7 linked regions of the Homo sapiens genome follow. The protein of the gene in region 4 purifies or fractionates together with the protein of the main gene of each other region. This does not show direct contact. Each region holds a gene or a part of one and is shown on either strand. Other genes may lie near its edges.

Region 1 (3,500 bases), on a different chromosome or scaffold from region 4:
GAAACATGACACCTCATTCTGTTTGGGACTTTAAGAGGTTTTGCTGAATGCATGCCAGTGGTGTTTCTGACACACACACACATGCACACACACACGCACGCACGCGTAACTGTATCTACCTCCCACAAACACATTATATAGAATACAGATTTTTAAACACCAGAAACAGTATCCTTTCTCTGCCGTCATGAATACTTCTGAAAAGACCACTCAGGAAATTCCTAATGATTTTAAGAAATAATTGGAAGGCAAAATTTAACCATTTCTAGAGAAGAGACACTAAAAGTCTATTCGAATGAAACTTTGCAAACAGAGCACAAACCATGACTACCCACTCCGAGTTTATAAGTGCAGAAGGAAGATGGGGTTCCCTGGTCTGGCTGACTAGACTCATCCTGGGCTCACTGAGGTGACAGACACCAAAGTTTCGTGACCCTTCAAACTGATAAGGAACACTGTCTTGTGCCTATAAAAATATAGGCCTAGCAGAATGGAACTACATGTCTCCTATAAGAGGGGAAACGTTCTTAAAAAAGGGGAACTTACATTGATTCCATAGTGTTCAGTGACTCCTCGGCCATGCTCTCCTAGGACTCCAAATGAAAGGCTTTCCTCCAGGAAGATTCTTGCTTTGTATTTGTATTTTAACTTAACCTAAGTGTTATATAAACGTTAAAATACTAATGATTAGCACCATATAGAACATATTATGGAGAAAAAAATTAAGATTAAAAAGTATGTACAGCTGACTCTCAATACTTGTGAATTCTATATGTGCAAATTCATCTACTTATTAAAACTTATTTGCAACCTCCATATCAATACTTTTTTCCTGTCATCACGGATATGTGCATGTGCAGAGCAGTGAAGAATTTGAATTACCTGACACGTGTTTTCCCAGGTGAGGGTGAACAGGCGACTGTTTCAGCTCTGATCCTGTGAACAACTACCCTTTTCATGGCCTATTTACTGCCACTTTTTTGGACTTCTGTGCTTTTTGTTGGTGATTTTGCTATTTAGAGTCGCCCCCAAGTGTCATGCTAAAGTGCCGTCTATTACTCCTAGTGCTGTGATGTCCCTTATGGAGAAAATTTGTGTGTTAGAGAAGCTTTGTTCAGGCATGAGTGGTAGTGCAATGAATCAACAGACATTAAATAAGACACCTTTAAACAAAAATACACATAAAGCAAGTTTTGTGTCAACTGGTTGATGAAAATGTTGTAACCAGAGGCTCAGAGGAACCTAACCCTATTATTTGCCCTAGCAGCAATAGTTTAGTATTTCTTATTCCAGTGTTCATGGCAACTTTATAGAATATAAGTAGGGTGAATGATGAGAATCAATTGTCCTTTAGATGGTCTAAAATGATTCACTTAACAAAAGACAGCACAATACTGATTTTTTTTTTTTTTTTTTTGAGACAGAGTCTTGCTCTGCCACCCAGGCTAGAGTGCAGTGGTAGGATCATGGCTCACTGCAGCCTTGACCTCCTGGGCTCAAGTGATTCTCCTACCTCCGCCACCCAAAGTGTTGGGATTAAAGGTGTGAGCCACCATGCCCAGCTTCAGTGCTTATCTACACTTGAGCTGTTCCTACACTTCATCTTTAGTTTCGTATCTGTCCATTAGCACTGCTTCATTACTGTAGCCCTATAATATACGTCCTAGTATCTTCTGGTTCACTACCTCCCTCCCATTATTCTATCAACCATTGACACTCTTACAAAAACAAAAAGAAGAAAACAAATACATCTCTTCTATTGATACTTAAAATATATTTAGATTTCCTCAGAAATAGTGAAAACATTTAAAAACAACATATGGAACCCTTATTTTGAATCCTTATTCAATTAATAGACTCCTAGATTAAAATCTCAATGGCCGAATGCAATGGTGGTTCAACATGGAAAAATCAAATATGTATTACATACACATTAGAAGAATGTAGGGGGAAAAACCCCACATGATCATCCCAATAAATGCAGAAAAAAAATTTGACAAAATCCAACAACCTCTCATGATAAAACACTCAATAAATTAAAAATGGGAAGGAACTTCCTCAACCTGATAAAAGGTTATTATAAAAAACTCACAGCTACCATCATACTCAATGGTAGAAGACTGAAAGCTTTCCTTATAAGATCAGGAACAAGACAAAGATGCTCATTTTCGCCACCTGTAGTCAACACTGTAGTCGAGGTCCTAGCCAGGGCAATCAGGCAAGAAAGATAAAGGGCATCCAAATTGAAAAGAAACAAGTAAAATTATCTCTATTCACAGATGGTGTAATCTTATACATAGAATAAGATCCACAAAAGTATTATTTGAGCTAATAAATTCAGCAGAAGTTACATTATGCAAAAGCAATACACAAATATCTGTTGTATTTCTATAAATAGCAGTAAACAATCTAAAAAGGAAATTAAGGAAACAATTCCATTTATAGTAGAATAAAAAAATCAAATACTTAGTGATAAATTTAACCAAAGAGGTGCAGGACGTATATACTAAAAATCACAAAACATTGCTGAAGGAAATATCTAAATAGATGGAAAAATCCCAAGTTCATGGACTGGAAGACTTAATATCATTAAGATGGTAATACTTCCCAATGTGACTACATATTCAATGCAATCCCCACCAAAATCCCAACAATACTTTTTACAGAAATGGAAAAGCTAATCCTAAAATTCAAATGGAATTTCAAGAGACCCCAAATAGCTAAAATAATTTTGAAAAAGAACAAAGTTGAACTCACATGTCCTGATTTCAAAACTCACTACAAAGCTACAATAATTGACACAGTGTGGTACTGGCATAGGACAGATATATAGAAGAATGAAACAGAATAGAGTCTAGAAATAAACCCATACATCTATGGTCAATTAATTTCAACAAGGGTGCCAAGACCAGTCAATGGGGAAACATTAAACAAATGATGCAGGCAAAACTGGATAACCACTTGTGAAAGAATAAAATTGGACCTCTTCATCAACGCATACGCAAAAATGAACTCAAATGAACTACAGACCTAAATGTAAGACTGAAAACTATAAACTCTTAGGGGGAAACATAGCAATAAATCTTGATAATTTTGGATTAAACAAAGATTATTATTATTATTTTTTTTTTTTTGAGACAGAGTCTCGCTCTGTTGCCCAGGCTGGAGTGCACTGGCGTGATCTCGGCTCACTGCAACCTCCACATCCCAGGTTCAAGCAATTCTCCTGCCTCAGCCTCCCGAGTAGCTGGGATTACAGGCGTGTACCACCACACCCGGCTAATTTTTTTGTATTTTTAGTAGAGACGGGGTTTTACCATGTTGGCCAGGCTGGTCTCGAACTCCTGACCTCAAATGATTCACCTGCCTCGGCCTCCCAAAGTGCTGGGATTACAGGCGTGAGCCACCGTGCCCGGCCAGATTAAACAAAGATTTTAAAATAAAACACAAAAGCACAAGCAACAACAAAACACATAAACTGGACATCATCAAAATTTTTA
Region 2 (3,500 bases), on a different chromosome or scaffold from region 4:
AGTGGTTCTAGCAGCAATGGCAAATAAAGAAAAGTATGTCTGTTTACAGATTCCTACATACTAGTTGCAATCTGTAGCTTCCTTAAAACTTACAGATATAAGTAACTTAATCAAAGTTAAAAACCGTCATCCTAAAGCATTATTAAAAGCACTCTATAAAATCAGAGTTCTAAAAATAACTTTTAGGGGAAAAAAGGACTTTCAACTTGGATTGCTCTAATAATTTATAAGTAAATAAAAATTACCTTAAGGACACATTTAGGACAAATTTTATAAACTTCAGTCATTAAAATATAAGCAAATTTTAAATTCCAAGAATTTAAAAGCTTAGTTTCCCAACAAAATAAGCAGATTATAAAGTTCAGCAGTTGACTAGATAAACAAATATAGGCTTATTAAAACCATATAATTACATTATCCTTTCTGGTTAGGTTGTATCAAAATTTCACGGACTAGAGATCTACTATAATAGCGTAAATAGGGCAATAATTTATTTGTGCCCACTGCCTTTACCTGATCCACAGGTATTTGAAAATCAGCTAAGAAAATTCAAATGTCCAAAATACTACTGTCTCATAAGAATCACAAACTCTGGTAAAAATTTTATTTGGAAATAACACAGACTTACATATCAACTACAGTAATACCCAAGAGATCCCTATTGCCCGAGGCTATCTTCTAGGAACATCCAATTTGACATCTCATTTCTTTTTAACCAATTACCTTGCCAAATTTAAAATCATTCAAATAAAAAAAAAATCTACATACAGGTTGAGTTTCTTTAATTCAAAAATTCAAAATCCACAATGCTCTAAAATCTGAAACTTTTTGAGTGCCAAAATGATACTCAAAGGATGCTCACTGGAGCATTTCAGATGTTTGGATTAGGAATACTCAACTGGAAAGTATGTAATGCAAATATTCCGAAATCCAAAAAAAAAAATGTGATATCTGAAACACTTCTGGTCTCAAGCATTTCAGATAAGTGATACTCAACTTGTATTTCCTATCAAAAGTTCAAAGATTCTAATGAAGAGACATTATATATATCACACAGACCAGTAGCGTCAGCTTCTCCCTGGAATGAAAATGAATATAATTTCGGCCGTGCTCAGTGGCTCAGGCCAGTAATCCCAGTACTTTGGGAGGCCAAGGTGGGCAGATCACCTGAGGTTAGGAGTTCAAGACCAGCCTGGCCAACATGGTGAAACCCCATCTCTACTAAAAATACAAAAAATAGCCAGGTATGGTGGTGTGTGCCTGTAATCACAGCTACTAGGGAGGCAGAGGCAGGAGAATAGCTTGAATCCAGGAGGAGGAGGTTGCAGTGAACCGAGATCACACCACTGCACTCCAGCCTGGGCGACAGAGCAAGACTCTGTCTCAAAAGAAAAAAAAAGAAAATGAATATAATTTCAAGGAAAAAAGCTTACCTGTCACTTGGTGGACTGTTTTCTTCCTCTTGCAAATATTTTTGGGTATTTCGCCTTCGTACCTTCGGGACAACATCCTTTCTTACAAAATGCCTATCTTGTGGTTTTGAATCTTCCTGAGACACGATATCTTCGATGTCATCCAGTAGTGTATCACAGGATGCAGAAGGCATATTCTCTACCACATAAAAGTTATAAATAAAATCAACTTATGAAAATCTGCTTAGCGTAGCATCATTTATGAAATATTCTCACCAAATTTGAATCTAATCAAGCCTTTGGATCTAACTTCAAATTTATAGAAAATACAAGAGATAAAGAAACACAAGGATGAAGTACTATCTTGGGTATATTGAAAAAAGAAACACAATGAAACAATCAGACAAAACCCTAATGACAATGGGACATTCCAAGGTTCAACAGGAACTATTTCTTCAACAAATCAATGTCAAGTAGGAAAAAGTAGGAGAGGAACTGTTTCAGATAACAGGAAGCGTAAAAGCCTAACAACAAAATGCAGTTCATGTTCTTGATTGTTTCTTCTTTGTCTGTCAAGCTATAAGAAATTTTGGGTATAACTAGGGAAATCAGAATATAAGCTGGATATTAGATAATATGAAGAAGTTATTATAAATCATTCGATATAAAGTATTGTCCTTATATTCAAAAATTTTATTTTTTAGAGATGCATATTGAATATTTAGAAGTGAAATGTCATTATGTCTATAATTTACTTTAAAAGGACCTCAGAAAAAATAGACTGGCTAGCCACAGTGGCTTATGCCTGTAATCCCAGCACTTTGGGTGGCTTATGCCTGTAATCCCAGCACTTTGGGGAGGTGGGCGCATAACTTGAGGTCAGGCGTTTGAGACCAGCCTGGCCAACATGGTGAAACCCCATCTCTTTTAAAAGTACAAAATTAGCCAGGCATGGTGGTGTACACCTGCAGTTTTAGCTACTTGGGAGGCTGAGGAAGGAGAATCGCTGGAACCCAGGAGGCAGAGGTTGCAGTGAGTCGAGAGTGCACCACTGCACTCCAGCCTGGGCAACAGAGCAAAACTCCATCTCAAAAAAGAAGAAAAAATAGATTAAGACATACTGAAAAGCATTTACAACTCTTAAAACTAGAAACTAGATAGGTTCATGTTCATTATCCTATACGACTTTTCTAAATATTCAAAATTTTTATAATTAAAAGAAGAAAATGTGGACACAGCTTGCAAGAAGATAAGCACATTTTTCCCTGCCCCGCCAGCAAAATACAAATAAAACTCTGGACATTATATATAAAACAAGCATAAGGCAGACTGGCTATGAACCTCAGGACCCAAGGAATATGATGAGTTCCTTGGGTTTTCTTCTGCCTCCTACAGCTCACTAAAGATCCCAGCAATCAGAAATGGCAAGAGATGCCAACAATAAAACCCCCCAATAAAAGCCTGCTTTCTCGTTAAAGAACTATACAAAGGGCAGCCTAGGAAGACAGAAAAGTTTTAGATAATAATCATTCTACTCCAGCCAAACACAAACACACACACACACACACACACACACACAAAACTGTAATCCCACCCCCAGGCACGCTACAAAGGCCAAGTGGGGAGAGCTTGGACTTCTACCTACAATCAAGCACCCCAACACACTCCACTAGTGTAGAATCAGAGAAGGACCTGGAGGGATCCTGGACATTCAAACCAACCAACCGACCAGTAATGAAGTTTTGCAGTGTCAGTGGAGACCAAACTGATACACAAGTTTAAAATAATCCCTATCAAAATCCCAGGAAGATTTTTTTGTAGGTATAGATAAGACTATCCTAAATTTTATATGGAAATGTACAGAAACTAATATATTTAAAACAATTTTGAGAAGAGTAAAGTAAGAAGAACTGGTCTACCCAATTTTTTTTTTTTTTTTTTTTTTTTTTGAGACGGAGTTTCGCTCTGTGGCCCAGGCTGGAGTGCAGTGGCGCGATCTCGACTCACTGCAAGCTCCGCCTCCTGGGTTCACGCCATTCTCCTGCCTCAGCCTCCCGTGTAGCTGGGACTACAGGCGCGCGCCACCAT
Region 3 (3,500 bases), on a different chromosome or scaffold from region 4:
GTGTTATCAGTGAGTGGTGCCTTTTTTCACTCCGTATAATTCCTTCCAGGTTCACCAGTGTTATCAGTGAGTGGTATTCCAAGCAAATACTTTTCGGGCAACCACTACTTACAATCATTCTGCACGGCTGGCAAAGCTGTTTCTAAGCCACATTCAGTATCGTTCTTTCATTTAAGGAGGTGGCAAAAGAATCTTCATCTGAACAGACGCCATGCAGTTCAGCATCAGACCAGGGAGAAGGCCTGCCTGAGGGCCGGGACTGTGTTGTGCCTGTCTGATCAAGTCAGCAGTCCTGAAAATCCACACAAACCAACTCCCGCCGAAACCACAGCAGAGGGCCCAGGGGAAACCCAGAATAGGTTCTCACAAGAAAGATTATTTGGCTCAGTAAACAATTATCCTCTAACGCAAATTTAACAGACATTATTTTCTCCAAGCAAACTATAGTTCAACCCAAAACAGAATAAACATAAAACAATCACTTGGCCGGGCGTGGTGGCTCACGCCTATAATCCCAGCACTTTGGGAGGCCGAGGTGGGCAGACCACAACGTCAGGAGATCGAGATCATCCTAGCTCACATGGTGAAACTCCGTCTCTACTAAAAACACAAAAAATTAGCCGGGCATGGTTGCGGGCACCTTTAGTCCCAGTTACTCGGGAGGCTGAGGCAGGAGAACTGCTTGAACCCACGAGGTGGAGTTTGCAATGAGCCGAGATCGTGGCATTGCACTCCAACTTCGGCAACAAGAGCGAAGCTCCATCTCAAAAAAAAAAAAAAAAAAAAGACGACGACAATTACTCAGATGCAGGAGAGACACGCATGTCAGCTACACGCAGCCTCATCCATAAGCAGATGCAGGGCCCAGGAGAGCAAAGGGCATGGTGACTGCCTGCCCTTCCTCACGCCAGGGCACCTGCCAATGCAGCAACGACTAGGATTTCACTGGACAAGCACCTACCACATGCCAGGAGTGATAACCAGGAAGCTGCCATGGCTTTGCCTTGCCATGGCAACGGAGGCTGCCATGCCATTCCTTCCAGGAACCATGACAACGGAGGCTGCCATGCCATTCCTTCCAGGAACCATGACAACGGAGGCTGCCATGCCATTCCCTCCAGGAACCATGACAACGGAGGCTGCCATGCCATTCCTTCCAGGAATCAGAGTTATTAGTGGGGCACACGTCCCTGGTTAACCGTAACACAACACACAAGGCTGAATGCAGAATCCGCACAGGCCACACAATTCTTCCCTCTTCTATGACAGGTGACCCTTCAGCAACACAGGAGTGAGCTATGTATGATCACGGACACGTGGATTTTCTTCCACCCCTGCTACCCAAGACAACAAGACCAGCCCCTCGTCCTCCTCCTCAGCCCACTCAAGGTGAAGGCCATGAGGATGAAGCTCTTTATGGTGATCCGCTTCCACTGCATAAATAGGAAATATATTTTCTCTTACGACTTTTTTCTTTTTTCTTTTTTTTTGAGACAAGAGTCTCGCCGTCGCTTTTTTCTTTCTTAATTTTTTTTTTTGAGACAGAGTCTTGCTGTGTCGCCCAGGCTGGAGTGCAGTGGCGCGATCTCGGCTCACTGCAAGCTTCGCCTCTTGGGTTCACGCCATTCTCCTGCCTCAGCCTCCCGACTAGCTGGGGTTACAGGTGCCCACCACCACGCCTAATTTTTTTTTTTTTTTGTATTTTTAGTAGAGACAGGGTTTCACCGTGTTAGCTAAAATGGTCTCGATCTCCTGACCTTGTGATCTGCTCGCCTTGGCCTCCCAAAGTGCTGGGATGACAGGCATGAGCCACCACGCCCGGCCTTTTCTTTCTTAATTTTTTATGTTTGAGACAGAAAGGTCTCACTCTATTATCCAGGCTGAAGTGCAATGGCACAATCTCAGCTCCCTGCAACCTCTGCCTACCAGGTTCAAACGATGCTCACGCCTCAGACTCCGGAGTAGCTGGGATTACAAGCACGTACACCACACCTGGCTAATTTTTTTTTTTTTTGGTATTTTTAGTAGACAAGGGGTTTCACCATGTTAGCCAGGCTGGTCTCGAACTCCTGGCCCCAAGTGATCTAACTTTCTTCTTTTATTAAAAAAACGAACGGCCGGGCGTGGTGGCTCACACCTGTAATCCCAGCACTTTCGGAGACCAAGGCGAGTGGATCACCTGAGGTGAGAAGTTTGAGACTAGCCTGACCAACGTGGCCAAACCAGGTCTCTACCAAAACTACAAAAATTAGCTGGGCTTGGTGTTGCATGCCTGTGATCCCAGCTATTCGTGAGGTTGAGGCAGGAGAATCACTGGAACCCAGGAGGCAGAGGTTCCAGTGATCTGAAATTACGCCATTGCACTCTAGCCTGGGAAACAAGAGTGAAACTCCAGGCTGGGCACGGTGGCTCACACCTGTAATCCCAGCACTTTGGAAGGCCAAGATGGGCAGATCGCCTGACATCGGGAGTTTGAGACCATCCTTGCCAACATGGTGAAACCCTGTCTCTGCTAAAAATACAAAAAATTAGCTGGGCGTGGTGGCGCACGCCTGTAGTCCCAGCTACTCGAGAGGCTGAGGCAGGAGAATCGCCTGAACCCAGGAAGCAGAGGTTGCAGTGAGCCGAGATCGTGCCATTGCACTCTAGCCTGGCGACAGAGCGAGACCCCATCTCAAAAAAAAAAATAATAATAATAATAGTAATAATAATAATAGAAATGAGGGTCTTAAACTCCTGGGCTCAAGTGATCATCCCACCTTGGCCTCCCAAAGTGCTCAGATTACAGGTGTGAGCCACCGCACCTACCCAGCAAATTTTTTTTTATAAAAAGGTCAGCCGGGCGTGGTGGCTCACACCTGTAATCCCAGCACTTTGGGAGGCCGAAGTGGGGAGATCACGAGGTCAGGAGTTCAAGACCAGTCTGGCCAACATGGCAAAACCCTGTATCTACTGAAAATACAAAAATTAGCTGGGCATGGTGGTGCATGCCTGTAATCCCAGCTACTCAGGAGGCTGAGGCAGGAGAATCGCTTGAACTCAGGAGGCAGGGGTTGCACTGAGCCGACATCGCACCACTGGACTCCAGTCTGGGCAACAGAGCGAGACTCCGTTTCAAAAATAAATAAATAAATACAAAATAAAAGTTAAAAAAAAAAAAGGTCCAGGGCTGGGTGCGGTGGCCCACTCCTGTAATCCCAGCACTTTGGGAGGCTGAGGCACGCAGATCACGAGGTCAGGAGATTGAGACCATCCTGGCTAACACGGTGAAACCGAGTCTCTACTAAAAATACAAAAAATGAGCCGGGTATGGTGGCGGGCACCTGTAGTCCCAGCTACTCGGGAGGCTAAGGCAGGAGAATGGCGTGAACCTGGGAGACGGAGCTTGCAGTGAGCTGAGATCACACCACTGCACTCCAGCCCAGGCGACAGAGCGAGACTCCGTCTCAAAAAAAAAAAAAAAAAAAGGTCAAGGCCAGGCACGGTGGTTCACACCTGTA
Region 4 (3,500 bases):
TTTTTGAGACAAGGTCTCACTCTGTCACCCAGGCTGGAGTGCACAATCACAGCTCACTGCAACCTCTGCCTCCCAAGCTCAAGCAATCCTCCCACCTCAGCCTCCCTAGTGCTGGGACCACAGGCGTGTGCCACCCCACCCGACTAATTTTTAAATATTTTGTAGAGGCAGGGTCCCACTGTGTTGCCCAGGCTGGTCTTGAACTCCTGGATCCAAGTGATCCTCCCACCTCAGCCTCCCAAAGTGCTGGAATTACAAGTATGTGCCACCCCACCTGGCCAGCTTTGTTTAAATACTCCACAAGAAACTTCCATTGCACAGCTAAGTAAACTGATAATTAGCTTGCTCAAGATTACAAAGATTGTAAATAGGGAAGCGGTTTGCAAACTTAAGACTATCTCTAAAGCCCATCTTTTTCTAATCAGTGGTTCCTCCCAGTCTATGGCATGCCGATGCAAATCATGGAAAAATTCACTCTAAACTTTCTGCTTTCAATATCAGGGTCCAAATACCACCTTAAGTCAACCTGACCTGTCTTTATCAGCTGCTTACTAAACACTCTCTGCAGAACTGTACTCTTAAAAAGCACTGAAGTATTTGTGCATTTCCTAAATGTACAAACAAGCACCTTTAAAACGTGGAGACAGATGAGAAAAGTAATAATTCTGCAGCAGTGGTACTCTTTCTGAGTAATCTGCTTTTGCAATGTGCAGTTCAGTGTGAGGTTGCCTGGTCCACCTTCAGACATTGTGAAACCTTCTCCCCAGAAGTGATGTCACTGCTAATGCTGAGGATATTTAAAGCAGGGAGCAAACCAATGGGAAGACATGTGACTGTGACAAAGATGAGGGATGAGATGTGATCAATAGAGCTTTTCAGCTCAAACTTCACTCATTCTATAAATAAAACAGCTTAAAATAGACTTGAGGGATTATTTTGCCTCCTAGAAATAAAATTCACCAGTGCTCAGGACAAGGCCTAGAATATAATGTGCTCGGTGAGTGTTTGTTAAAATGTGGAATAATTCTGAATCCTATGTCCAGCTGCTCCCACTCCTGCAGCAGAGAGGAGCCTGCAGTTTGCCATTTCCAGATCTCCAGGGAGAAGGGATCTGGGGGCCTGCTCTGTAGACGCGTTCTGGAAGGGGAAAGAAGGCATGGTCCTCCATGCTCTGTATGCTCAGCGGGGAGTTAAACATTGGAAAGAAACAGTTTCTAGCCCCCTGGGTTCCTGAATGGCTCTTATTTTCTGTAGTTTGGGATATACTCCTGGGATCATTTGCATGTGCCTGCTTTTCTAGATCCATCTCCCTCTCCTACAATAACAACAAAACAACAACAGACATTCCTGAGGCATTTCTTTGAAGGCAGCTGTGCTGCTGGATTACCCATCAAAAAGACAGAAAACCTCAGTAGCCTGGCAACTTGAGAAGCCCCAGCCAAGATGCCCCACACCTCTACCCCACTTCAATAAGCTGATTTAACTCAGAAAAGTGTATATATGGTGCTGGCCGCTCTTGAGAAGGTTATTTGGTTTGGGTACAGTGGTGTTTTGTGTTTGTTTGTTTGTTTGTTGTTGTTTTGAGACAGAGTCCTGGAGTAAGCAGTAGTGCAACTTGGCTCACTGCAACCTCCATCTCCTGGGTTCAAGCAATTCTCGTGCCTCAGCCTTCGAAGGAGCTGGGACTACAGGAATCTGCCACCACATCTGGCTAATTTTTGTATTTTTAGTAGAGATGGGGTTTCACCATGTTGGCCAGGCTGGTCCCGAGCTCCTGACCTCAAGTGATCCACCCACCTTGGCCTCCCAAAGTGCTGGGATTACAGGCGTGAGCCACCGCACCCGGCCGGTACAGGGTGTTTTTAACTGTGACTGTTTAAAATGGCTGTCTGGTGTGTCTCTTGGACATAGTTTCTTACCTGCCGGGTTCCTACTTTCTTTCCTCCACTCTAAGCATCTCCTGCTAGTCAGTCATTCTGCGTAACTCTGCTCTTTGAGGGAATGTATTATCGCCCTGACAGTAGCAGATTCAACCAAATTACTCCTTTAGCTCTCTGGTTCCTGGAGTCAGGAAGTGTCCAACAGGATCCCTGGTCCCGGCCACCTTGCACTCCAGACTGAGGAGCATTTTAGTTAAGCCCAGTTGCTTCAGATTTTAGTGACCTTGGTGGGAATCTAGGCTCTACCATCACCTAGCAATGTATGCTCAGTAAATGGCAGCTACTTATTATTATTACATTGCTGGGCATATAGCCTTTCCCTACTCACCAAGATGTGTTTGTTTTGAAATACCTCCTAGCTGGCTTCTGTCCCAGAATTTTATTTGAGAACAATGAGGGTTTTAATCACATTTTCATCCTGAATGAACCAAATCGTAATCCCTCTATGTTTTGTGTGAGTGTATTTGTATTTTTTAATTGAAGTACAAACTCAAGAAGCAGTTTTCACACTCCCTCCCTCTGGTCAACATCCAGTAGACATTTTTGGGATTAGAAGCTAATACATCATATTAGAGACTAAAATGCAAAATCTTCTAAAGTGGTATAGACCACATGGGTGTGAGATCTTTTATACTTGAAATTTTTCCAAGTCAGTCCAGAGCCATTTCAGTACAGTTATACCCATAGCCACACCTCTCTGTTGACAGAAACCCTTAAAATTTTTTCCCCCAATTTTTTCAGTATCAGACATCCGTGGTCTTTCTGGACTCCAGTCTCAGGGTTGTCTTCCTCCATGGCCAACTGCCCCACCATGCAATATATATCAGCCTCCTCCTGTCTTGGTTACCAATTAGAAATGAGAAATGGCTAAGTGTTCTGGCTATGGAGTCATCTCAGTTATCAGTGGTGTGACCCTAGGAAAATTAGCTACCAGCTCTGTGACTCAATTTCCCCATTTTTAACGTACAGGTAATTATAATAAGTACTGTCTTAAGATTGTTGGGAAGATTGAATAAAATAATATATGTAAAGAGCTTATAGCTCAGGAATTGGCATTTAGGCTGGGCGCGGTGGCTCACACCTATAATCCCAGCACTTTGGGAGGCCAAGGCGGGCAGATCACTTGAGGTCAGGAGTTCGAGACTAGCCTGGCCAACATGGTGAAACCCTGTCTTCACTAAAAATACAAAAATTAGCTGAGCGTGGTAGCTCGCGCCTGTAATCCCTGCTACTCAGGAGGCTGAGGCAGAAGAATCACTTGAATCTGGGAGGGAGAGGTTGCAGTGAGCCGAGATTGCCCCACTCCACTCCAGCCTGGGCGACAGAGCAAGACTCTGTCTCAAAAAAAAAAAAAAAAAAAAAATTGGGATTTAGTAAGAGCTCAATAAATACTATTTTAAAAAATCATGTTAGTTGGGAGATAGTGGTCTAGTAGCTAGATCAGCATCCAGTATTGTTCTGTAGCAAATATACCAAGATCCCCCAAAAACATAAATTGTGCTGAAAACAAAATGGTCTGACATTATATACTTTTTAATTTTATTATTACAGCTCTCTGGC
Region 5 (2,863 bases), on a different chromosome or scaffold from region 4:
CTTCCCTTCATACGTATCTGCATGCTGCTTACTGGTTCCCCACTGCAGTCACACACATAGCTGTGTGCCCCTCCTCAGGCATGCCCATTCCCTGCCTCCCTTCTGTGTCTCTCCCCCAGCTCTGGCCACTCTCAGGGAGGACCTGACACGGCGACGGTACCTGATGAGTGGGGTGATGGCACCTGTGAAAAGGAGGAACGTCATCCCCCATGATATTGGGGACCCAGGTAAAAGTCCACCCCAAGGTCAGCTTCCCTCCCTCAACTTTTGCACCCTCTACCCTATCCACCAATGCAAGTGACCCAAGTCCCCTCCTCTCCCACAGATGATGAACCATGGCTCCGCGTCAATGCATATTTAATCCATGATACTGCTGATTGGAAGGACCTGAACCTGAAGTTTGTGCTGCAGGTTTATCGGGACTATTACCTCACGGGTGATCAAAACTTCCTGAAGGACATGTGGCCTGTGTGTCTAGTAAGGGATGCACATGCAGTGGCCAGTGTGCCAGGGGTATGGTTGGTGTCTGGGAAGAGCCTAGCTGGTTGTTGCCTTTCCTCGGTACCTAGGTCTTCAACATCTTGGTCCCTCTCTAGGCTGTGATGGAATCTGAAATGAAGTTTGACAAGGACCATGATGGACTCATTGAAAATGGAGGCTATGCAGACCAGACCTATGATGGATGGGTGACCACAGGCCCCAGGTTAGCGGGTAGGGGTTTCCAGGAGGCCTGAGGTGAGAAACTGGGCAACAAGGGATTGTAGGGCTCAAGAAAGAATGACTCATTGTCTATTACACGGCATGGGAGCAGCTGGAGCTGCCAGTCTGACCCCCAAACCCATGTCCCTGATCAGTGCTTACTGTGGAGGGCTGTGGCTGGCAGCTGTGGCTGTGATGGTCCAGATGGCTGCTCTGTGTGGGGCACAGGACATCCAGGATAAGTTTTCTTCTATCCTCAGCCGGGGCCAAGAAGCCTATGAGAGACTGCTGTGGAATGGTGAGTTCGGGGAGCCTAAGTAGTCTTAAGGCAGCTGAGAGGACACCAGGAGCCTTATTTTTCTCTTCCTCGACTCCAGGCCGCTATTACAACTATGACAGCAGCTCTCGGCCTCAGTCTCGTAGTGTTATGTCTGACCAGTGTGCTGGACAGTGGTTCCTGAAGGCCTGTGGCCTAGGAGAAGGAGACACTGAGGTGAGAGAGGAGGAGGAGCAGCCAGAGAGAAAAATGGGTTTTCCCTGGAGGTGGGAAGTAAGTATATGAGACCATGTTCCTGCCCTTGCCCCTCCAGGTGTTTCCTACCCAACATGTGGTCCGTGCTCTCCAAACTATCTTTGAGCTGAACGTCCAGGCCTTTGCAGGAGGGGCCATGGGGGCTGTGAATGGGATGCAGCCCCATGGTGTCCCTGATAAATCCAGTGTGCAGTCTGATGAAGTCTGGGTGGGTGTGGTCTACGGGCTGGCAGCTACCATGATCCAAGAGGTAATGCACTCCTTTTCCCATCTCTCCACCATCTGTATCCTGGCCCAGAAAACTTCCTCAACCACCAAATTTCTTCAAGGCATAACCCAATGCCATCTTGTCCGTCTATAAAGCCTCCCATTTTTCCCTGGTATGCATTCCAGCTCCTGCCTTCAGGCTTCTGTCTGTGGGTCATAGTTATCTCCTCCACTTGCTGGGAGCTCCTTGAAGGCAAAGACTCTACTGCCTCCATCTATCCAGTGGAAGTGGCTCTTCAGAGGGTGCCAAGTTAGTATGTATGACTGTCATCTCTCCCAACAGGGCCTGACTTGGGAGGGCTTCCAGACAGCTGAAGGCTGCTACCGTACCGTGTGGGAGCGCCTGGGTCTGGCCTTCCAGACCCCAGAGGCATACTGCCAGCAGCGAGTGTTCCGCTCACTGGCCTACATGCGGCCACTGAGCATATGGGCCATGCAGCTAGCCCTGCAACAGCAGCAGCACAAAAAGGCCTCCTGGCCAAAAGTCAAACAGGGCACAGGACTAAGGACAGGGCCTATGTTTGGACCAAAGGAAGCCATGGCAAACCTGAGCCCAGAGTGAGCCGTCTGAACTGTGGGAGGGAAGTGCTAACAGCCCAGCCTCCAGCCTGGCCTTTCCTCCTTCCCCTCTGAACCTCCTGCAACCCTGAGCCATCAGGACAATCATACCCCTTCCCTTCTCTCCACCCAATTGTGCCAGTAAATGGGGGTTGAGGGTGACCTAGGCAGCATTAGAATCACTTATTTATTTCTTTCCTCACCTGTTCCCTGACTGCGTGAAATGTTCAGGGAGGTCAGTTGATTTCCCCAGGTACATTCATGGTGTGACAGACACATGGGTACAAATAAAAGACCCAGAAAGCCATTAAGTGTGGTGTGTTTGAGCCCTCAGTCGTCCTGACAGGGCACAGGAGCTGCGGCCAGCCCTTGCCCACCGCTTTTTATTTGGACACAGATGGGGAGCCCCCCAGGCTCCTGCTGAGACCCCCCACATATCCTCATATCTAGCCTGAGTATCTGTCCTGCAAAATGACAGAGGGGCTACCAGTAGGAAGCCATCCTCCCTTCCTTGTGAGATTTGCCTGCAGGGGGAGGATGGGACCTCGGCAGAGAGGCTCTGAGAAGAGGTCAGGGAATGGCCACTCCAGGGGAGGCTCTGCACTGGGAGCCTGAGGCATGTAATGCAGCAGGCAGGAAGTGTTGCCAGGGGCCTGGAGTACACAGTCTGAGCCGTCCAACCACTGGTGTGTGCTGTCTTTCGGCACTTCTGACTGCAGGGCAGGCAGCTCCAGCTGGTAAGGGTCCTCACTGGGGAGGGCACGAAGCTGGCGGGACAACACTGAGGAGACAAAGAATCTTCAGAGG
Region 6 (3,500 bases), on a different chromosome or scaffold from region 4:
TCCCCATCCCTTCGTTGCCTTATCAATTCCTTTTTAGCAACAGACAGCAGGTGTGAGGCTCAGAGCTTTCACCACATACACATCTGAGTTAAAAGCCAATCACATTATATAATAAGTACAATTAAAGGACTCAACCATAATCTATTTATGGCAAATTATATTTGTTTTTCCTTAAAGGTAGTATTTCATCTCCTTTTAAAATGAATTTAGTAAGGTTAAAAAAAAAGGTGGAGACAATTTGAAAATAAAAGCTAAGTAAATAATTGTACACGTGTTCCACAGATGTACTACAGGTCACCTGGGCATGGCTGAAATTTGGAAGCCCCTGATTTAGCCCAGTGTCCTTCTTTGCTTAAGTCTCCCAGCCTGTGCTGTCCACTATGGCGGCCACTTCCCACAGAATTCACTAAAATGGTGAATTCAGTTCCTCAGCAGCAGCAGAGATCCGTGTGTCTCCTGGCTAGAGGAACTGAGTGAGACTATGCAGAGACAGGATGCCCCACAGGGGCAGGGGACCCCCCCACCGACTTGGCAGAGCTGTTCCAGAAAAGGGCTGGCAAATGCTTTCTGTGAAGGTCGGACATAAGCATTTGGGCTATGCAGCCCATACAATCTCTGCTATGACCACACAATCTGGCAGTGGTAGGGTGACAACAGCCACTGACCATACATAATGCATGGCACAGCTGAGTGCCAACAAAAATTTACTTGCAGAAAACAGGCACAGGCTGGATCTGGTCTCCGGGCAGCAGTTTTGGAGCACTGCTCCTGAGTATCCTGCAGGTCTGCCTGTAGGCCCCCGTGACTGGTGCCGAGCCCCTGCCCAGGTAGCCCCCACCCAGCTTTGCAAGCGTCCGTGACTCCACAGGTTCCCTTGCTCAGGATCTATCTTACCTTCCAGGCTGGTCAGAACAGTGGCCAGACAGAGCACGTCCCCCACCACCATGGCCCCAGACAGCTCTGGGGAGATGGCCTGTAGGACAGGCAGGGGCATGAAGTCCGAGAGGCCCGGGTGCTCTGCGTCCCACACACGGAGCAGTGTCAGGCCCACGCTGACTGTGCGGACAACGCAGGTGTTGTTGGTGGGGCCCTTCCCGATCTGCACAAAGTCGTCTCTAGGCACAGGAGAGAAAGGAGGGCTCTCAGTCTCGGGAAAGAAGCTTCCAACTCCCAAAGGGAGAAACGTAATCCATGTCCTCTGCTGAGCAAAGCATTCAACTGACTGAGGTCCCAGGTGTGGCCCCAACTCGAGGTTACCAAGCAGTGGCCCCAGATGAGGGACCACTGCAGGCAGGTGGCACAGGCTCGACCTCCTCACTTGTCATGCCAGAAAGCACATGCAGCTCGCAGCCAAACAGTGGCAGCAGCATCATTCCTGCATTTCAGAAAGGAAGCTGAGGCCCCGAGGGGAAAGAGATCCAGAGTGCTTCCTCACGCTCTTCCCACCAGGGAACTGGACATGCCAGAAAGGGAAGGCTGCCCTTACTATGCAACCTGACTGCAGAAGCAGCCTCTGCCCCTTTCCTCCTCTGAAAAATGGGGATCATCACGTGACCGTGACGCAGGCCTGGCATAAGCATTACATGAGGTCAGCAGTGGGGAGGCACCTGCCACAGGGCAGGTGCTCAGTCAATGTTGGCAATGGCAGCTTTGGTGCAGAAGTGTGGACTGCGTGGGGTGACAGTTTGGGTTAGGGATCATGGCTGCATCCTTGCCTCCACCACACCTTCTGACCCTGAGTGCTGACTAGGTCTCTATCAGGTGCTCCTGCTACAAGAAGGCCAGAATGACCTGCAGTGCAGCCAAAGGGCTGGGAGAACTGGGCTCCATTTCCTCCAGGACATGCCCTAAACTGATGGATGGCAATTATGTGCGCACACACGGAGTGCCATGGTTTGCCAGCGGTCCTCATGACCACTCCCTCAGCTGAAGGAAAGCCCTGGAACCTAGGCCATATTGCCCAACGTGAGAGGTGTGGAAACAGATTTTTGGATGGTGACCTACTCACAGGGCCCACGAAGGGCAGAGCTGGGGCTAGAACCAGGCCTGACTCTAAACCCCAGTTCTTTCCATAAGGCAACACCCCTGACACCTGTCTTTGAATGCATTCAGCAACAGGGAAACACAACTGTGGCAGGACCTGTGGGCAGCCGAAGCTGAAGGGCCAATTTCCTGTGCCTCGGGGAGCACTCCCTGGAGCTGCCCCATGCCCTGTTTCCTCCTTTGGGGGCTGATGCCTGTCTGTCTTCCTCTGAGCTGGTCTACATCCCCCAAGGGCAGTGGTGTTTCCTCGTGGCCCTGCATGGTGCAGCATGCCCACATCTCTTGGAAACTGAAGTAATACACATCTTCCTTCAACAGCAGCAGACTTTCTGTGTTATCCCCAGTTGTCTCTACCAGGTACCAGACAGGACTTCATAGGAGAAATGACCCTTGCCCACATCCTACCTGTTAGTGGCAAAGTTGAGGACCGAACTGTGAGCATGGAAGACATCTCCAGAGTTGTCGTGGAAGTGGACAGTGAAGGTCACGGTCATTCCCAAAGGCACGGCCACCAGGGCCTCCTTGTTCTGGGTGTGCAGGACAGGGCTCATGGAAACCCTCAGGTAGGAAACAGGGGATACCTAAGGGACAACATACAGGTATGATGAGGATTCAGTGCCAGGGACTGGCCTCCAGGAAAACCCACCTCCCAAGGAGGGGACACCTGCCCCCAGCAGGATCCACCTCAGGAACAATGCAGGGCTGGACTTAGGGGTCCTGAGAGGAGTAAAGGCCACACTCCCCAGAGTGTCCCAACCTAGTGACAAGGTTCTTACTTCCCAACACAGCAGACTGGCCTCTCTATGAGAAAACCCACCCAGGAGTGTCCCAATCCATGACTTGAATAAATGAGATCACTATTTACATTGCAAGAGGGCCCCCTGGGCTGCAAATGTCCAGTTTCTTCAGAGAACCTGGCTCTTGGGGCATTTAAAGAAACGAAATCCTCCTCGATCGCAGGGGCAGCGCTAAGCAGGCCACAGCATGCCCTGCAGGCCACCAGGGGAAGGAGGGAAATGGGGATTTCTGGAGCCCAAGAACCCGAGCTCCATAAACAGCAGCCCTTGTTTCTCTGAGTCCAGGTGAAAATCTATCCTCGCTCAAAAGCTAGTGCTCCAAAGGTCTGAATTTCTTTAACAAAGTTCAGTGGTGCAGTGTCTGGTATACAGCTAGTGCTCAGTACATATTTGTTGAAATAGGATGAGCAGTCAGTCACTTTCACTCACCAAAAACTAGAGCGGGGGATTTGCTGCCAGGCACCCATTTTGAAACAAAATGATGTGAATTAATGAAAGAGGTCTGTGACCCAGGCAGAGTCTAAAGATTTAAGTGAGTGTGTGTCTTCTGTCATCCAGGGTTCAGCAAGTGGTGATGATGAGACATGGAAAGAAAATTCCATTCAGCAAAACCCCAGGACCTGACCCAGGGATGCTGATGGAGAAGGTCCCATCCGTAAG
Region 7 (4,042 bases), on a different chromosome or scaffold from region 4:
GAAGCCACTGCAGGGGGTAAGGATGTGCCCGGAACAGATTTGCACATTGTAAAAGACCACGCTGGATGAATGCGAGAACAGAGGGAAGACAGCAAGGGCTACAGATAGGGAGGACAGTTAGCAAGCTCTAGGTGAGAGCTGTGGGTGGCCCAAACCAAGACAGTGGCATTAGAGATAAAGGGAAATGAGCAAGGAGAAAGCAATTTTGAGTGGTGTGTTCCCATGAGATATCCAAGTAGACTATCCAGCTGGCCAGTATCTGTATGAGTCTGAAGCTCCTTTATTTATTCAACATGGTTTTATGGAGAGTAATAAATGCTGGTGATACAGCTGTGTACATTCAGACCACATTCCTATTTTCATGAAACTTACAATCTAATGGTGGGGATAAGAGAAAAGTAATAGGTAAGTAACATATGAACATGTAAACAATAACATATGAGACAGGGATGAGTGCTATAAGGAGAATTAAAGTAAAATAATGTAAAGAGAGTGACTGGGCAACTCTAAATGGGATCAAGAAATGCTACTGAATATTTAAAAATGAATTTAAACTGAGAGATGTGTGACAAAGAAAATGTAATCATGGCCGGGCGTGGTGGTTCACACCTGTAATCCCAGCACTTCGGGAGGCAGAGGTGGGCAGAGAGCTTGAGCTCAGCAGTTCGAGACAAGCATGAGCAACATGGAGAAACCCCATTTCTACAAAAAAAAAAAAAAAAAACCACACACACAAAAAACTTTATAATAGCTTCTGTCCAAACCTGCAGATGCAACCAACTCAAGTATCAGTCATAAATTATTTTGGACAAACAACTATAGTTCAACCTACTCCATCTTCTGTACTTTTAGATAAGGGAAATGACTATAAAGCAATAAGCATGTAGATTCTCATGCCTTGGCCACCTGAGTAGCTGGAATTACAGGCATGCACCACACCATGCCCCACTAATTTTTGTGTATTTGGTTTTGCCATGTTGGCCAGGCTGGTCTCAGACTCCTGGCCTCAAGTGATCCGCCTGCCTCAGCCTCCCAAAGTGCTGAGATTACAGGCGTGAGCCACCACGCCCAGCCCAGAACTTTTGGTTAGCAGTCATTTATGTGTCCCTTATGTGCCAGGAACTGTGCTGACTGCTAATATATGAAATTAAAAGGGAGCTGTTCACAATGACCTCTCAAAATGGAAACAATCTTCCCAGAACCCAATACCTTCCTTTCACAAATACACTGGTGACAAAAATAATACCCCAAGTCTTGTTCGTTACTGCATTGACAAATTTTCCATGTTAGGCATACACAAGCCAATACAGTTAATTATTATTATTATTATTATGGTTACAGTTTATTATTATTATTTGAGACAGAGTCTCACTCTGTCACCCAAGCTGGAGTGCAAAGGTGCAATCTCCGCTCACTGCAACCTCCACCTCCCGGGTTCAAGAGATTCTCCTGCCTCAGCCTCCTGAGTTGCTGGGACTACAGATACCCGCAAGCAGGCCTGGCTAATTTCTGTATTTTTAACAGAGACGGGGTTTCCCCATGTTGCCCAGGCTGGTCTGGAACTCCTGACTTGAAGTGATCCACCCACCTCGGCCTCCCAAAGTGCTGGGATTACAGGTGTGTGCCACCGCGCCCGGCCCAGTTAATTATTTTATAGGTAATTTTCAAAGCAAGATGACAAGGTCGTTTGGAAAATTTTGTCCTTACAAAGAAATTTATAGCCCACTTCAATCCAAGACGGCCTCCTATTCAACGGCTTCATCTCCTCTTTTATAGACAAATACCTCCTGGGGCAGTTCATCCATACAGGCCATAGTTCTCACGGCCTATGACTTTTTCCGGTCTTTTAAGGATCTGACTTTCACCTACCACTCCAGTACTTACCTGATTGCCCAGCACGGCGGTGGCACAAGCTGTGGACACCTCTTTGGGCCCAAACCACACTGAGGCGATGCGGGAGGGCAAGCCCAGGATGAACACCTGGGCCACCGAGCACAAGCACTGGCCCAACATGGTGACCCAGAAGAGATGCTGCTGCACACTGCCGCACTTGATCCAGGCACCCAGGCAGTTGAGGCCGGAGCCCAGCAGGGCGGTGAGCCGCAGGCCTCTGGTGTCCAGCAGCCAGGTGGCCGGGAAGATGAGGGGCACGTAGGCCAGCATGTACACCATGGACAGCCAGTCGATGTGCAGCAAGGTGACACCGTAGAAGCCCTCGAAGACGTTGCTAATGATGCTGTACTGGATCCACTGAAAGGCGTTGACCAGCGAGTACAGGCTGAAGATCAGGAGCACCACGAAGCGCCGCGGGGAGAGCGCCGTAAGGGGCAGCGGGCTGCTCTCGGCCCCCGGGGTCTCAGCTCCCGCGCCCGCAGGCAGCAGCCGGGCCTGGGTCTCCTCTTCTGGGGCCAGTGGAGTCTGAGGCCCGCCCAGAACTCCCGAGGCGGCAGCGAGGCTGTCCCGGGGGGCCCCATTCACCGGGAAGGTGCCCGCTTTGGGCCCGTTCTGCAGCTCCACGCTCTCCTTCCCAACGGGCGCGCCCCTCGGCAACGGGAGGTATCCTTTCGCGAGCGGGTGTCCGGGCGCCACCGCCGCCCCCTCCTCATCGTCTGGCCGCGCCATATCCCAGGCTCCCCGGCGCCACCTCGCTCCCCCGCCCCACTCCCCGACTCCGCTCTCCCGGCCCACAGCCCGAGGTCCTCCTGGGGCCCCACCTCCAACCCCTCGGCCCACCGCTCCTTCCCCGGTGGCGCGCGCCGCGAACCGCAATCCGCGCTACCGCGTGAACAGATGAAGGTCTCCTCCCCCGCGCCGCGCGGCAGTCACCCCTTGTCTGGTCCCGCCCCTAGAGTCGCGCGTCCTGCATGACTACGGCCCTCCGGCCAATCAGCGTGCGCCTTTGTCCGGCGCGAGAGCCAGTCGGGGAGCTACCGGGCGAGAACTTCGGGAGGCGGGGGAGGAAAGCGGCCGGCGAGCGCTGGCTGACATTTTCCTGCCCGGAAGGATGCATGGCCCGGGGTCTCCTGCACCTGAGGGTGGGCGGGAGGCGGCCCCGCGGGTTGTGTTGCTGGAAAAAGGGGTCTCGATCCAGACCCCAAGAGAGGGTTCTTGGGTCTACTTCAGGGAAGAATTGGAGGCGAGTCACAGAGCGCAGTGAAGGAAGCAAGTTTATTGGAATCTACTCCGTTAGAGAGTGCAAGTCCTCAGACTGCAGGAGGAGGAACTCCCGTCCTTCGGTAGTGTCACTACTTAGAGGCAGCTGTGAGGAGCTGTGATTAATCGTGGAATGTGCTGATGTGCCCACTAAAGGTAGGGGCTGTTGGTGCACTAATGACCATTAATCCTTCAACCTAAGCCTGCGCATTGACGTTATCTCTGAGTAGAGGGCTGGGCCGGGCTCGGTGGCCACGTCTGTAATCCCAGCACTGTGGGAGGCCGGACAGGAGTCTCCCTTGAGCCCAGGAGTTCGAGACCAGCCTGGGCAACATACTGAGATGCCATCTATTTAAAAAAAAAAAAAAAAAAAAAAAAGCCAGTAGCCAGGCGTGGTGGTGCATGCCTGTAGTCCCAGCTACTCAGGAGGCTGAGGCAGGAGAACTACTTGAACCTGGGAGGCGGAGGTTGCAGTGAGCTGAGATCGCACCACACTGCCCTCCAGCCTAGCCTGGGCGACAAAGTGAGACCTTGTCTAAAAAAAAAAAAAAAACTCAGGACATCTGGACAATTCCGCAGACTTGGTGGGAGATGTCCTGTATGGCCATAAATATTGTGTAATTATAATTGTTGGTCAGCTTAGAATGCGGCTATTTTCAGACCTTTAGCATTAACCTTATAGGTGCCTTGTGAGTGCCTAGTTACTCACTTTAACATGCAGTCGCTCTAGCCATGTTTTATTAAACCAGATGCCTGGTAAGCAGTGGCTCCTCTAACAAGTGGGCAGCTTGGAACTGGGAACGAGAGAGCCACCGAAACAGAATGAGGGAGACAAAGAAGTGGGCATCACCCTTAACTCCACAAGGGCTTCCCAAGGGCGCTGTACCGT

The links.
Region 1: the proteins of SLC7A8 (region 4) and SPTLC1 purify together in Homo sapiens (affinity purification with mass spectrometry; one large-scale study listed by BioGRID and IntAct). This does not show direct contact.
Region 2: the proteins of SLC7A8 (region 4) and CDKAL1 purify together in Homo sapiens (affinity purification with mass spectrometry; one large-scale study listed by BioGRID and IntAct). This does not show direct contact.
Region 3: the proteins of SLC7A8 (region 4) and SPG7 purify together in Homo sapiens (affinity purification with mass spectrometry; one large-scale study listed by BioGRID and IntAct). This does not show direct contact.
Region 5: the proteins of SLC7A8 (region 4) and GBA2 purify together in Homo sapiens (affinity purification with mass spectrometry; one large-scale study listed by BioGRID and IntAct). This does not show direct contact.
Region 6: the proteins of SLC7A8 (region 4) and NUP210 purify together in Homo sapiens (affinity purification with mass spectrometry; one large-scale study listed by BioGRID and IntAct). This does not show direct contact.
Region 7: the proteins of SLC7A8 (region 4) and FLVCR1 purify together in Homo sapiens (affinity purification with mass spectrometry; one large-scale study listed by BioGRID and IntAct). This does not show direct contact.

The regions. Positions count from the first base shown.
Region 1 is NC_000009.12:92,049,414-92,052,913, forward strand, and holds part of SPTLC1 (serine palmitoyltransferase 1), read right to left. Parts: intron 655-3,500; coding exon 547-654; intron 1-546. UniProt on the Homo sapiens protein: Component of the serine palmitoyltransferase multisubunit enzyme (SPT) that catalyzes the initial and rate-limiting step in sphingolipid biosynthesis by condensing L-serine and activated acyl-CoA (most commonly palmitoyl-CoA) to form long-chain bases.
Region 2 is NC_000006.12:20,544,457-20,547,956, reverse strand, and holds part of CDKAL1 (threonylcarbamoyladenosine tRNA methylthiotransferase), read right to left. Parts: intron 1,619-3,500; exon of another isoform or gene 1,612-1,618; 5' UTR 1,607-1,611; coding exon 1,434-1,606; intron 1-1,433. UniProt on the Homo sapiens protein: Catalyzes the methylthiolation of N6-threonylcarbamoyladenosine (t(6)A), leading to the formation of 2-methylthio-N6-threonylcarbamoyladenosine (ms(2)t(6)A) at position 37 in tRNAs that read codons beginning with adenine.
Region 3 is NC_000016.10:89,514,903-89,518,402, reverse strand, and holds part of SPG7 (mitochondrial inner membrane m-AAA protease component paraplegin isoform 1 precursor), read right to left. Parts: intron 1-3,500. UniProt on the Homo sapiens protein: Catalytic component of the m-AAA protease, a protease that plays a key role in proteostasis of inner mitochondrial membrane proteins, and which is essential for axonal and neuron development.
Region 4 is NC_000014.9:23,173,661-23,177,160, forward strand, and holds part of SLC7A8 (large neutral amino acids transporter small subunit 2), read right to left. Parts: intron 1-3,500. UniProt on the Homo sapiens protein: Associates with SLC3A2 to form a functional heterodimeric complex that translocates small and large neutral amino acids with broad specificity and a stoichiometry of 1:1.
Region 5 is NC_000009.12:35,736,366-35,739,228, reverse strand, and holds the end of GBA2 (non-lysosomal glucosylceramidase), read left to right. Parts: intron 1-119; coding exon 120-227; intron 228-325; coding exon 326-477; intron 478-596; coding exon 597-703; intron 704-854; coding exon 855-997; intron 998-1,076; coding exon 1,077-1,192; intron 1,193-1,289; coding exon 1,290-1,481; intron 1,482-1,624; coding exon of another isoform or gene 1,625-1,753; exon of another isoform or gene 1,754-1,781; coding exon 1,782-2,060; 3' UTR 2,061-2,363; downstream 2,364-2,863. Other genes in the region: CREB3 (cyclic AMP-responsive element-binding protein 3), read right to left, coding at 2,503-2,837. UniProt on the Homo sapiens protein: Non-lysosomal glucosylceramidase that catalyzes the hydrolysis of glucosylceramides/GlcCers (such as beta-D-glucosyl-(1<->1')-N-acylsphing-4-enine) to free glucose and ceramides (such as N-acylsphing-4-enine).
Region 6 is NC_000003.12:13,326,323-13,329,822, forward strand, and holds part of NUP210 (nuclear pore membrane glycoprotein 210 precursor), read right to left. Parts: intron 2,625-3,500; coding exon 2,449-2,624; intron 1,116-2,448; coding exon 895-1,115; intron 1-894. UniProt on the Homo sapiens protein: Nucleoporin essential for nuclear pore assembly and fusion, nuclear pore spacing, as well as structural integrity.
Region 7 is NC_000001.11:212,857,033-212,861,074, reverse strand, and holds the start of FLVCR1 (choline/ethanolamine transporter FLVCR1), read right to left. Parts: upstream 2,801-4,042; 5' UTR 2,623-2,800; coding exon 1,885-2,622; intron 1-1,884.